Linked DNA regions of Homo sapiens. The protein of the gene in region 1 interacts with the protein of each later gene in a biochemical or structural test. Each region holds a gene or a part of one and is shown in the gene's direction. Other genes may lie near its edges.

What was found. Proteins that work in one complex are often made in the same cells at the same time.
Region 2: of the proteins of MAP3K1 (region 1) and TOM1L2, one has a biochemical effect on the other in vitro, tested with the Homo sapiens proteins (one large-scale study listed by BioGRID).
Region 3: of the proteins of MAP3K1 (region 1) and ODF2, one has a biochemical effect on the other in vitro, tested with the Homo sapiens proteins (one large-scale study listed by BioGRID).
Region 4: the proteins of MAP3K1 (region 1) and RAF1 form a complex in vitro, tested with the Homo sapiens proteins (one study listed by BioGRID).

The regions. Positions count from the first base shown.
Region 1 is NC_000005.10:56,874,549-56,878,048, forward strand, and holds part of MAP3K1 (mitogen-activated protein kinase kinase kinase 1), read left to right. Parts: intron 1-483; coding exon 484-762; intron 763-3,500. UniProt on the Homo sapiens protein: Component of a protein kinase signal transduction cascade. Activates the ERK and JNK kinase pathways by phosphorylation of MAP2K1 and MAP2K4. May phosphorylate the MAPK8/JNK1 kinase.
Region 2 is NC_000017.11:17,965,901-17,969,400, reverse strand, and holds part of TOM1L2 (TOM1-like protein 2), read left to right. Parts: intron 1-3,500. UniProt on the Homo sapiens protein: Acts as a MYO6/Myosin VI adapter protein that targets myosin VI to endocytic structures. May also play a role in recruiting clathrin to endosomes. May regulate growth factor-induced mitogenic signaling.
Region 3 is NC_000009.12:128,466,006-128,469,505, forward strand, and holds part of ODF2 (outer dense fiber protein 2), read left to right. Parts: intron 1-2,919; exon of another isoform or gene 2,920-3,177; coding exon 3,178-3,348; intron 3,349-3,500. UniProt on the Homo sapiens protein: Seems to be a major component of sperm tail outer dense fibers (ODF).
Region 4 is NC_000003.12:12,601,618-12,605,117, reverse strand, and holds part of RAF1 (RAF proto-oncogene serine/threonine-protein kinase), read left to right. Parts: intron 1-828; coding exon 829-982; intron 983-1,580; coding exon of another isoform or gene 1,581-1,640; intron 1,641-3,500. UniProt on the Homo sapiens protein: Serine/threonine-protein kinase that acts as a regulatory link between the membrane-associated Ras GTPases and the MAPK/ERK cascade, and this critical regulatory link functions as a switch determining cell fate decisions including proliferation, differentiation, apoptosis, survival and oncogenic transformation.

The DNA.
Region 1 (3,500 bases):
CTTATTGCTCTTGTCTGTAAGAGAAATACTCTATATCTCTTGAAACCTTCTCCTGGTGCTTTTTTTGATTTGTTTTTTGTTTGTTTGTTTGTTTTCTTAATCTTGCTCCAGTTTTTCTCTTTAAACTACCTTAATATGAATACAGAGTTGAGGTTTTCACAGTTTTTTGGCGTTTTGGTAAGCATGTGGGACAGTAGAGGCATAGAATGTATGTATAGCCATCTAGTGACTTAATGGAGCTTATTATTAATTTTACCTGAGCTAATAAATATTAATGACTTTGGATAATTATCAGTTAAACTTGAGTATAAAATTCTTCCTTATGATGCTTAAGTGGCTGGATATATTTGAAGTTGTGAAGGATGGTAAAGATTTCAGAAATGTCCAGTTTTTACGTAGTAATCAAAAATGATGCTAAACTCAAAATGCTCTGGGTCCATAAGCTTTTCTTTACATTGAATTCATCGTGTGTGTTTGATACAGGTGTTTGGAATGGAACTCGTTGGCTGCTTATTTTCTAGAAACTGGAATGTGAGAGAGATGGCCCTCAGGCGTCTTTCCCATGATGTCAGTGGGGCCCTGCTGTTGGCAAATGGGGAGAGCACTGGAAATTCTGGGGGCAGCAGTGGAAGCAGCCCGAGTGGGGGAGCCACCAGTGGGTCTTCCCAGACCAGTATCTCAGGAGATGTGGTGGAGGCATGCTGCAGCGTTCTGTCAATGGTCTGTGCTGACCCTGTCTACAAAGTGTACGTTGCTGCTTTAGTAAGTAGCTTTATTCCATAATCATATCATTATGGGTTTGGGGTTTTTTGATGGTTCGTAGATAGTGTTTTTAAGATACAATAAAGCTACTTTACCTAATTTTGGAAAATCCAAATTTTATTTTTATTCCATAATTCCAGGAAATTACAGCTTTTGTTTTGTTTATTTGAATTTTACTGATTTTTATGATGTCCAAGGTTTCTTATATAACTGTTTTACTTTTTAGTTTCATTGTTTTAAAGGCTTTGCAGGGGTATCCAAGGGAGAGAATATAGTCATGGTTTCTTAGTTTCTGTTTGGGCCAGTAAAGCTCCTTCCTCATCCTCCTTTTCCACTTACCACTAGAGACAGACTAAAAACCATGGCTTCAGGCTGCTAAAGCCTAAAACAAAACAAAACAAAACAGAACAACAACAAATAGGGTGAGCTAGACAAGCTTGCTAATTTTTAAAGATTTTTTTAATGTCTTGCTGTTCATATCTGTACATTTTTCTGAGCAGATACCTTATACATGACCAAATTAAAAATGCTTTTTGGGATGGCAGAGTCATCAACGTTATTCTGATTTTTTAAAAAATTTATCAGATATTAAGGAAGATATGTTTTTAATAAACATTTTGATTGATTTTTAATAAACATTGTCATGTGGAGATTCAAAAGCCTTTTCAAAGAAAAGGGTTCCATGACATAGATCATTGAGTTGTTTTCCAGTTTAACCTGTTAAAAGTTCTTTCATGGGTGGAATAGAGTGACAAGGAGGTAATTTAGGAGACTAACTGGACTTTCTCCATTCTGCGTATATGTCTCTTTAGGGCTTCTCAGCCTCAGTACTATTAACATTTGTTAGATAATTATTTGTTGGAGGGTGGGGGGAGGGCCAGGGATGTTGTCATGTGTGTACTGTGGCAGCATCTCTGGCCTCTACCCATTAGATACCAGGAGCAAACCCACCCCCACCCGATCATGCCCCCAGTTATGACAACCAAGAATGTCTCCAGGCATTGCCAAATGTCTCCAGTGGTCAAAACTGCCCCCAATTCAGAATCACTACTTTAATTCTTATCTAGTCTGTTCTTAAAATTCATGAGCAGTCTGTAGGCTTCCTCCCTCAGTCTTTTTCTAATGCATCCTCTACCGATTGGGCCTAATGAATCTTCTTGACAGGTAATACAGCATGACAGTTACGAACATGGGTTTGGAGTCACAATTGAGTGATCTCATAATTTATCATTCCAACCACAATGCTTGCATAATGTGCTGGTTAAAGTTGGACTAGCCTAGGCAATCTGAACACATGATCAAGATCATAGAGACAGACCTGGATTCAAATTCTGGTTCTCCCTTTTACTAGCACGATGGCTTTATGAAGGTTACTTAACCTCTCTTAAATAAACTTCAGTTTTCTCACCCATAAAATAATGAAAATACCTTTTAGGTTTGAAATTAGATTATGTAGAAACTTTCAACCATATGCCTGGCACATTGTAAGAACATTTAATATTATATAATAGTTATCATTATTTCTTAAACACAACTTGGATTATCCCCCAAATCATTTAGAAACCTTTAGAGGTTTCTGTTTCTTTGACATTCCTAAAGCATATTCTGTGGAAGTTTGGCAGGGTTGTGAAAAGTTCCCTGAAGAAAGAATCCCGTATTCAGTTAAGATTGGTGAACACTGGATTACACAAGGATAACTAGGTCTGTTGACTGAAAGGCTTCTAGGATCCTTCAGTAAGCTAATGTACATTGTGAACCTAAAGGATCAAAGGATAGAATGCATTGTTTCCCAGAGTTATTTTGCTACACCTTGTTTTTTCATGTAGCATCTGGAGGGACCAGCATACTATAGAATAAAGACCAATTGGCCCAATATTTTGCCTCTTACTTAGTATTTTCCAACACAAACCTTCAGGCATACTTGACTAAATAAAATCCTCTTTTTGCTAGTTCCTTTTCTGCAAAGCCTTTGCTGTGTTACTCTTTTTGTACACACCGTAACTGCCTTACTGTTGTGGTTGTTTCTTCTTAAGTTCAGACTGTTTCCCAACTAGCTTATGAGATCCTAGAGCACAAAGATTGTATAAAGGATACCAGGCTCCATGGAGGCAGAAATGGCTCCTGCTGTTAAGGCTCACCCTTTCCCTTTCTCTTATCTCCCCTTCCTCTGTCTCTTCCTTTTTTTCCTCTCCCTCCCTCTGCATATATAATTTTTTTTTTTTTTTTTGCTGAATCGTTTGAGAGTTTTTTGCAGCATCATGACACTTAAATATGTGTCTCTTAAAACCAAATACATAATTCCATTTATTCTTCCATATACAGTCAGCACATTAACATTAATCACAATACTGTTTTGTACTATAAAGTTCATACTCAAATCTCTTCAGTTGCCCAACAGTGCCCTTCATAGCTAAACTGCAGACTTTATTCAGATTTCACCAGTTTTTCTGCTGTTGTCTTTTTTCTGTTCCAGGATCCAATCCAGGATCCCACAGTGCATTTAGTCACCATGTCCCCTTAATGTCTTCTCATCCATGACAGTTCCTCAGCCTTTCCTGGTTTTTAATGACCTTGACAGATACTTTCAAAGTTTACTGGCCAGTTATTTTGTAGAATATCCCTCAATTTGGGTTTATCTGATGTTTTCTCATGATTAGATGGAAGTTACGTATTTTTCACAAGAACGCCACAGAGGTGACAGGCCTTTCTTAGTGCATCATATCAGTGGGTACATATGC
Region 2 (3,500 bases), on another chromosome or scaffold:
ATAAAATAACAACTACAAAGCTAATGATTAAAAACAGCAGCTGTAGGCTGGTTGTGGTGGCTCATGCCTGTAATCCCAGCACTTTGGGAGGCCAAGGTGGTGGATCACTTGAGGTCAGGAGTTGGAGGCCAGCCTGACCAATATGGTGAAACCCTGTCTCTACTAGTAATACAAAAATGAGCCGGGTGTGGTGGTGGGCGCCTGTAATCCCAGCTATTCAGGAGGCTGAGACAGGAGAATCGCTTGAACCTGGGAGGCAGAGGTTGCAGTGAGCCAAGATTGTGCCACCGCGCTCCAGCCTGGGCGACAGAGTGAGACTCTGTCTCCAAAAAAAAAAAAAAAAGGAGAGCTGGTCCCTCTCTGATCCCTGTCCTCAATGGATTTACGGTTTCAGGAGAGAAGACAGAGATGCATGAAACAATGAGTGGTGTAGATTGTAAGTGCTGAAGGAGTCAGAAACAATTCAGAAGAGGCTGGGGTGACAGGGACTGGCTTCTTTGAGTCTGAGGGCTGTTCATAAAGGATGGGTAGGAACTCTGCATGCAGAAAACAATATCATTGGGCCTAGGGACAGCTGAATGAGGCAGGGAGTGGGGCACAGGCACATCTGTGAGTACCAGTCTGAATGGAGCAGAGGTGGCTGTGGGGAGTGGTGGCAAGTAGGGTTTGGGCACAGGAGGAAGCCCTGCTCTGGATGGGTGGCATCAAAGACTACATTCTTTTTTTTTTTTTTTTTGAGATGGAGTCTCACTTCATCACCCAGGCTGGAGTGCAGTGGCACGATCTAAGCTCACTGCAACCTCCGCCCCACAAGTTCAAGCGATTCTCCTGTCTCAGCCTCCCAAGTAGCTGGGATTACTGGTGCCTGGCACCGTGCCGGGCTAATTTTTGTATTTTTAGTAGAGACAAGGTTTCACTACCTTGGCCAGGCTGGTCTTGAACTCCTGACCTCGTGATCCACCCTCCTTGGCCTCCCAAAGTGCTAGGATTATAGGAGTGAGCCATTGCGCCCGGCCCAAAGACTACGTTCTTTAACTGACTTCAACTTTTAGTCTCTTTGGACCTAATTTTCCCTGCTTATAAAATAATACTTCTCAACAGCTGCATGGGGCTTACACCTAAATAATTTTGTCTGTTCACTTCAGTAGGCAGTTATGAGTGCCTGTGGGGGGCCAGGCCTGTGCCAGGCTCTGGGGATACAAATATTAACAAGCTGCTCTTAGGGAGCCTTCGGTAGAGGTAACATGCTCACAAAAGGTGTCCTGGGTCTGTCTGAGCGGTTGGTGGAGTAATTCTTACTCTGTCTTATGCGTGGGCCTCATGTGAACATTCTAACCTGGTACGATTTAGTAGAACACTTAGCGTGTTCATCTCAAGTTAGCGGCTAAGACCACAGTCTGACATAGTTAACTGTGCATTTCTTGCATCCATCCCGCCCTTTATTCTGGAGGGCAGTTCCTGAGTAGAAAGCATGGTTTAGGGAGAGAGTAAGCTGGACAGGTGCGGTGGCTCACACCTGTAATCCAGCACTTTGGGAGGCCGTGGCGGGTGGATCACCTGAGGTTAGGAGTTCAAGACCAGCCTGGTTAATGTGGCAAAACCCCATCTCTACTAAAAATACAAAAATTAGCTGGGCATGGTGGCACGCGCGTATAATCCCAGCTACTCGGGAGGCTGAGGCGGAAGAATCCCTTGAACCTGGGAGGTGGAGGTTGCAGTGAGCCGAGATCGTGCCATTTGCACTCCAGCCTGAATGACAGAGCGAGACTGCATCTCCAAAAAAGAAAAAAAAGAGAGAGAAAGCCTAGCCATGGTGTGCGAGGCTAAGAAGTGTGGTGGAAGAAAGAGTACTTACTTGTATTTCTTAATTTTCTGTTCTGCAACAAGCTTCAAAATGTTAACTGTCTTAATCTCAGCCTTCCACAACTGCTTGGAGTTGGATGACATACATGGGGAGTTCCCCAAGTCAGGTCCATTGTGTCTGCAGCAGTTTGCAGTTTTCCTTGTGTTGGCTAGAAAAAGTTTTCAGAAAATCCTTTTCCAAGAGTAAAGTTTAGATTCAAAGATCAGTGAGTAGTTAGTTAATTCTGACCAGAATATTGGGGGTGGTGGGCATGTATTCTCTTCATTGTTCTGCTTTAATAAACAGGCAAGAAGCAGATATTCTGTTGCAGAGTTTGTTTGTAGACTGACTGGTGTTGGACATAAACTACTTCATAATATCCTGTGAATGGTAGACGTTTAACCTGGCTATTTGTACCAAGAATAGTTAGTTGTCCCTCAGATTGCTATGTGTATTAGGGTTCTCTAGAGGGACACAACTAATAGGGTAGATGTTTATATTAAGGGGAGTTTATTAAGGAGTACTGACTCACACAATCACAAGATGAGGTCCCACAGTAGGCCATCTGCAAGCTGAGAAGCAAGGAAGCCAGTCTGAGTCCCAAAGCTGAAGAACTTGGAGTCTGATGTTCAAGGGCAGGAATTTGCAAAGCCCTTTTGCTTCAGTCATTTTATTTAGTGTTCACAACCTTGTGAGATATACAGGAAGATAACTGGAAGGAACTTATAATTATTAAGTACCAACTATATGCAAACTCTGTACATAGAATCTCATTTAACCCTCACAACATTTAACTATTTGGGTGTTATCATCCCTGTATCACATAAGGAAATCGAGGCTCTGAGAAGTTAAGAGACTTGTGCAAGGTCAATGGCAGAGTGAAGCCTAGAATCTACTCCTGATCCAGTGCTCATTCTGTGCTGCCATTTATGTTACTTTTTGCACTCTGAGCTCATGATTCAGCCGCAAGGGAATCACCTGGAGGGCTTGTTAAAAGTGGATCCTACCCTCAGAGTTTCTGTTTCAGTAGGTTTGGGGTGGGAAGTAGCATTCTACATTTCTGTCAAGTTCTCTAGTGATGCTGATGCTACTGGTTCACTTCGAGAACTGTAGTTCTTGCTTTGAAGTTCTGTTTCTTTAATCTTTTCTTTATCTTTCTTCAAACATTAAATGTAGGTTTTCTTGTGGACAGGCTAAAAGAGTGATTATTTAGAATTTGTTCATTTATTTATTCAGTGGCCCTGTACTATCTGTATATAGCAAGCTGAGAATTTCCCAGTGTGTAGGTATCTAAATTAGATCAGATAGAAAGTAGTTGCAAGATTGGATAGATAAATGCAGTAAGGAAATGTAGGAGGGGAGGGGTGACCTCAGGTGGTAATAATAATAGCTAAAGGCTTTTGGGTTTTTTGTTTGTTTTTTTGTTTCTTTGTTTTCCAGATGGAGTCTTGCTCTGTTGCCCAGGGTGGAGTGCAGTGGCGCGATCTCAGCTCACTGCAACCTCCACCTCCTGGGTTTAAGGGATTCTCCTGTCTCAGCCTCCCAAGTAGCTGGGATTACAGGTGCCCACCATCATGCCCGGCTAATTTTTGTATTGTTAGTAGAGACAGGGTTTCACCATGTTGACCACGTTGGTCTCAAACTCCTGACCTCAGAT
Region 3 (3,500 bases), on another chromosome or scaffold:
GGTCGCGCCACCAATATCAGCTACACAGAAGGCTGAGGCAAGAGAATTGCTTAAGCCCATGAGGCGGAGGTTGCAGGGAGCCAAGATCGCGCCCCTGCACTGCAGCCTGGGCAACAAAGCGAGTCTCCATCTCAAAAAAAAAACAAAAAAAACGGAAAAGAAAAACGAAAAGAGGACTGGCCGGGCCTGGTGTCTCACGCCTGTAATCCCAGCACTTTGGGAGGCTAAGGCAGGCGGTTCACCTGAGCTCAGGAGTTGGAGACCAGCTTGGACAATGTGACGAAACCGTATCTCTACCAAAAATACAAAAAATTAGCCCAGTGTGGTGGTGTGCACTTGTGGTCCCAGCTACTTGGGAGGCTGAGGTGTAAGGATGGGTTGAGCCTGGGAGGCAGAGGTTGCAGTGAACCAAAGTTGTGCTACTGCACTCCAGGCTGCTTGACAGAGTGAGACCCCATCTCAAAAAAAAAAAAAATGGAAAAGTGCAGGGATGTACACCCATCAGAAGTGTATTGCTCCATGAATTTTCACAAGCTGAAGGTACCTGTGTAACGATCACCCAGCATCCTAGAAGCTGCCCCTGGCTTTTGTCTATGTCACTCCCTCCCCATCACAAGGAGTAAGTAGTCACACTTTCCCATATATATATATATATATATATTTGTCATTTTAAAAAATATATAGTCATGTGGCCGGGCGTGGTGGCTCACGCCTGTAATCCCAACACTTTGGGAGGCCGAGGCGGGCGGATCACAAGGTCAGGAGATCGAGACCATCCTGGCTAACACAGTGAAACTCCGTCTCTACTAAAAGTACAAAAAATTAGCCGGGCATGGTGGCGGGCACCTGTAGTCTCAGCTACTCGGGAGGCTGAGGCAGGAGAATGGCGTGAACCTGGGAGGCGGAGCTTGCAGTGAGCCGAGATTGCACCACTGCACTCCAGCCTGGGTGACAGAGCGAGACTCCATCTCAATTAAAAAAAAAAAAAAAAAAAAAAAAAAAAAAAAAAATATATATATATATATATATATATATATATATATATATATATAGTCATATATCAATTAACAATGGGGATATATTCTGAGAAACATGTTGTTAGGCACTTTCATCATTGTGCAAACATCATGGAGTGTACTTACACAAACCGAGATTGGTAAAGCCTGCTACACACCTGGGCTGTATGGTATAGCCTATTGCTCCTAGGCTACAGACCTCTACAGCATGATGCCGTACAGAATACTGTAGGCAACTAACACAATGGTAAGTATTTGCATATTGAAACATAGTAAATATAGAAAAGGTACGGTAAAAATACGGTGTTTTGGGACCACTGTCATATATGCAGTCCATTGCTGACTGAAATGTTACGTGGCACATGACTGTTTATACATTTTCCTATTTTTGTCATTTTAAGTATTAAAAGTAACTTCTTTTCTTCTAAAAGTAATATACATACCTGGATGTGGTGGCTCATACCTGAAATCCCAGCACTTTGGGAGGCCAAGACGGGCTTATCACCTGAGGTCAGGAGTTCGAGACCAGCCTGGCCAACATGGTGAAACCCCACCTCTACTAAAAATACAAAAATCAGCTGGGCATGGTGGTAGGTGCCTGTTATCCCAGCTAGTCGGGAGGCTGAGGCAGGAGAATTGCTTGAACCTGGGAGGCGGAGGTTGCAGTGAGCCGAGATGGCACTACTGCACTCCAGCCTAGGCGATGGAGTGAGACCCTGTCTCAAAAAAAAAAAAAAAAAAGCAAAGTGTTTACAGCTTTGCATAAAGTTTCCTGAAGCATATATGCATTTTAAAATATTTAAAAAAATATTTAAAAAGCTGAGACTACAGGCACCTGCTACCACGCCCGGCTAATTTTTTTGTATTTTTAGTAGACACGGGGTTTCAGTGTCTCGATCTCCTGACCTCGTGATCCGCCCGCCTTGGCCTCCCAAAGTGCTGGGATTACAGGCATGAGCCACCGCTCCTGGCCCTAAAATATTTTTTATACTGACGTATTTAAAAAGTATTGTATTTTTTTAATACAATACTTTCCAGGTATTGTACCATGTGCATTTATAATATTTTTCTACATCATCAAAATAACTGATTACTCCTAAGAGCATTTCTTAATATCATACAATATCTGGTCCTTTTTCCAATTTACCCACTTGTTTCTACAATACCTTTTCAGCAGATTCATCTACCTTTGTAACTAATCCACTATCAGCTATTCATATTCATTTAAAAGACTTTTGACATATTTCATTTCTACCCTAGGTATAAAAAAATGTACTGCCCTAAACTTTTGCCAACTTTGGGTATTATTAATGTTTTTGCTGATTTGTTATATTATTTCTTTATGAGTATTGTTATTTTTAGAGACAGGGTTTCGCTCTGTCACCCAGGCTGGCATGCAGTGGTGCTATCATAGCTCACTGCAGCCTTGAACTCCTGGACTCAAGGAATCCCCTGCCTCAGCCTCCTGATTAGTTGAGATCACAGGCATGTGCCACTACACCCACCTGATTTTTTTTTTTAGAAGGAGTTTCGTTCTGTTGCCCAGGCTGGAGTGCAATGGCGCAATCTTGGCTCACTGCAACCTCTACCTCCCGGGTTCAAGCGATCCTCCAGCCTTAGCCTCCTGAATAGCTGAGATTACAGGCATGCACCACCATGTCCAGCTAAGTTTGTGTTTTTAGTAGAGACGGGGTTTCACCGTGTTGGTCAGGCTGGTCTCAAACTCCTGACCTCTGGTCATCCACCCGCCTCAGCCTCCCAAAGCGCTGGGATTGCAGATGTGAGCCACCATGCCCAGCGCTAGCTAATTCTTTTACTTTTATAGAGACAAGGTCTCGCTATGTTGCTGAGGCTGGTTTTGGCTTCCCGCCTCGGCCTCCCAATATACTGGTTTTACAGGGTATCCAGCCTATGTTCTTTATTTTAAACTTAACATTGTAGCCCAAGCTTTTAATTTTGATGTTGGGAATTCTCCAAAACCATCATTTAAACATGGATAGGTAATGTTCCATCACAAGGGTTCAGAGTATGTTCTTCCTGGGGTCCCCGAGTTAGCTGTTACAGCTTTTCCCGTCTAATCAGTAAATAAGCCTCCAGTGGTGGAACTCGTGGTCAAGGTTCTGCCTTCTGAGTTCATGTGTTTCTCCCTCCTCTACATCAGAATCCACCTCATTGCCTGGAGATCACGCCACCATCTTCAGAAAAGCTGGTCTCAGTGATGCGGTTAAGTGACCTCTCTACAGAAGATGATGACTCAGGTCACTGTAAAATGAACCGTTATGATAAGAAGATTGATAGTCTAATGAATGCGGTTGGTTGTCTGAAGTCTGAGGTGAGGGAGGTAGGGGGCTGGGATAGCTACTACCCTGAGGATGTGCAGGAGCACCCAGGTGGATTTCCTGCCTGGTCCCTCAGCCTGCGTCTGCAGGCCTTCAGGCCTCCTCTGCAGGGTTGCCCCGGGCTTCAGTTGCCTGCCCCGGGAGG
Region 4 (3,500 bases), on another chromosome or scaffold:
AAGCAAATCTGACCAAGAATTTGTAGTTACCTCTGAAGATTAGAAGAAACCAGGCCTCTGAAGCCATAAAACAGAGGATTATGTGGGAAGGCATTTTTTTCAAGACAATAGAACAATTTCCCTTAGAAAAGCTGGCCTTTTTCCCTTTAATTCATACATGGGTGTTACCTGAATCTGAACAAACCTCGAACGAATCTTTAGAGCAAATAATGAAAATGTTATACCTCTTAATGCATGTTCCCAGTTTGGTTGGTGGGGGTTGGTGGTGACTGGAAGAGGCCAGTGGTTAATTTCACATTTAGGTATTTCCATCTAAAAACTGAATTCCCATTTATTTACTTTGTTTGCTGGTTGTAGCAGGTAAGGACAAACAGAGGGTAAAATCCTGGCCTTTTTACAGACATGCTCAGCACGTCTACTTATCTGTTTAAATAAATTCTCAAATTTAGTCTCTAAACTGGGCGTGTTCCAACTAGCTTAATAGGTGGTAGCGTGGTTGTCAAATGTTAATCTGTTCTTTCCTGGAGATGTTGTAAAAATTTGGAGTAGAGTGGTGCTTTATTTAAAAAAAGAAAACTTATAATGCACTCTCCTTTTCATTGAATTCCCAATACATATATTATTTCCTGTTCCAAATTTTGTATGCAAAAGCACCTAGACTTAAGATAATTTTTAGATGTCACACATTTGAAAGAATCAAACATTTTGTCAAAGGTTGTACAGGTAGAGTTTGCCCTTAAGCATCTTACTTAGTCAAATATGTACTTGAAAGACTTCACCAGTATGAAAGCCTAAGTGCCAATCATGGAATTTTCTTTCTCCTCCTAGTTCTCAGCACAGATATTCTACACCTCACGCCTTCACCTTTAACACCTCCAGTCCCTCATCTGAAGGTTCCCTCTCCCAGAGGCAGAGGTCGACATCCACACCTAATGTCCACATGGTCAGCACCACCCTGCCTGTGGACAGCAGGATGATTGAGGTAATAGGGCACCTTGGGGGTGGTAATGTCAGTCAATTAATGGGGTGAGGTTGATACTTATTTCAGAGTTTTGGGTTTCAAATCTGATCAAGGAATGTTGCAACACTTTCTCAGGTCTCTGGACTTTTACAGTTTATTTTATATCCATAATATCTTCAGACTGGCTGAATAGTCTGGTTAGTATATCATTCAACTGGAGAACTAAAACTTCCTGAAAAAATGTTAACATTTGAACTCTTCCCATTATCAGATTTGAATAGGCTATTAATGAACAAGTGTCTAAGATATTTAAAGAGCAGTTTAGTTTTGGTGTGGGACAGAAATTAACAGTGATGGAGAACTACAGATTCTCTGGAAGACTTTTGTGATTTTATTTAGAAATAAAAGGGTGGAGTCCTAGGACTTTAATAAGCAGGTGTTTGGGGAGATGTCAAAGTGCCCAAAGCTAGTGTTTTTGAACTGCTTTTTCTTCTCTTGGCTTTTTGGTTATGTCCTATTGGTTTAATTTGCTTTCTGCTTCATCTTTAATAACAACTGAATACACTTAAATACTTCCTTTGTTCTTTATTCTTCTTTATTTCTCATTGCTTTGGACTAGAATAACAACCTGAGTGCTTCTCCCAGGGCGTGGTCCAGACGATTTTGTTTGAGGGGAAGAGTAGGTATTTTTCTTCATGCCTTTGCTTTCTTGTAATTAACAGGATTGCTAAAACTGTCAGACAGCAGACTACCAAAAATGAAATAGTTGCTAAGTTAAATTTATATTTCTTGTCACTTGTTTCCATGTTTTCTTTTTCTTTCTTTCTTTTTAAAATTTTTTTTGGCAGTAGAGTATATAGAAGTAAAAAAAATGTTGTATGTGGTATTGATGATAGGTGAAATGAATTTCTGAAGTTAGGCCAGGCATGACGGTGTATGTCTGTTGTCCCAGCTACTCCAGAGGCTAAGGCAGGAGGATCACTGGAGCCCAGAAGTTCTAGGCTGTAGGGAGCTACAATTGTGCCTGTGAATAGCCATTGCACTCCAACTGGGGCAACATAATAAGAATCCACCTTAAAAACAAACAAAAAATGTTAAGTTAGATTTTGAGGCCAAGGGCATTAAAAAGTTTTTTTTTTAAATCAATTCCAACCAAAGGCTAATGTTAGACTTACTTAGTTGGTGCTCACAGCATTGGTATTCTGTTTATACATTAGTAACCAAATGTGTTTTTGGTTGATAAACCCTAGAATAAATATTCTTTATTGAAAGCTTATCAGAGACAACTATGCTCTCTCTCATCATGTAGACACCTGCTGCCTTAGGCACAGTTTATCTCATTCAGACCTCAAATCACTTTCAACATAATTGTCCTGCCACTATTGTGAGGAGATCATGTATAAGCTATAAATTTTATTATTTTGACTTTATCATTATGATTAGTCCTGATAATACAATAATATACCAGTTACTGCTACTTCTATTAAATGGTTTGTTCCTGTATGAACACTGTAATACTTACAGGGAACAGTAAAGGTCAGAATTGGCTGGGTGGGAAGATCACTTGCGACCAGGAGTTCAAGACCTACCTGGGCTATATGTAGCAAAACCCCACCTCTACAAAAAAAAATGTAAAAATTAGCTGGGCTTGGTGGTGTGCACCTGCAGTCCTAGTTACTCAGGAGGCTTGGGCAGGAGGATTACTTGAGCCCAGGAGTTTGAGGTTGTAGTGAGCTGTGTATGATTGTGTCAAGTAAGAATTTTTGAGTTTTTATTATAAAAGAATTAGCACAATTGTTGTGCCTAATCATTTTTTACTTTAGAAGCAGGGTAAATTTTGATTCCTGTTAATTTAATCACATATAAGTCAGCATTTTTAAAGTAGACTAATTGTTGCTTTATTCAAATTATTTGTGGGTCTCAAATTATTCATAGTTCTCTTGAGTATTTAGACTCCAGGAACAATAGGAAAATTCTTTCTAGAATAAATTGATCCAACTATAGAAATTAGCACAGAATAAAATATGGGATATTTAATTGATACAGGGAAGAAAATTACCATAACATTAAGGAAAATATTCTGCTACATAGGAATATAATTGTGGTTAATAAAAATAAATTGTGCTTTGCTTTAAAAACAAAGAACAGCTTAGTTGGATAATGAAATTACAGCTGCCGATTTCTATTGAAATCCACATTATTTTTTGCCAGTGTTTTGCCCACCTGGCAGTTATCCTGCTGTACTTAAAAACACACATTCCTGGACTTCTCACATTCCCCTCCAAAACATGCTCAGTCAATCGTGGGTCGGGGATTAGGGGTGGATCTTCATTCTTCTTTCCAGAGTCAGAATCACTCTCCAGGTAATTCTGAAGACTAGCTAGTTTTGGGAACCAGAACTAGGCTTTCTTGTTAAATTCCGAATTATGTTTTGGGAGCAGGGGAACAGCTTGGTTTGATTCTTTTTATCTAATTATATAATTAGATATATAATTTTATCTTTTTATATAATTGAGTGGGAGCATTCTAGTAATAGTTG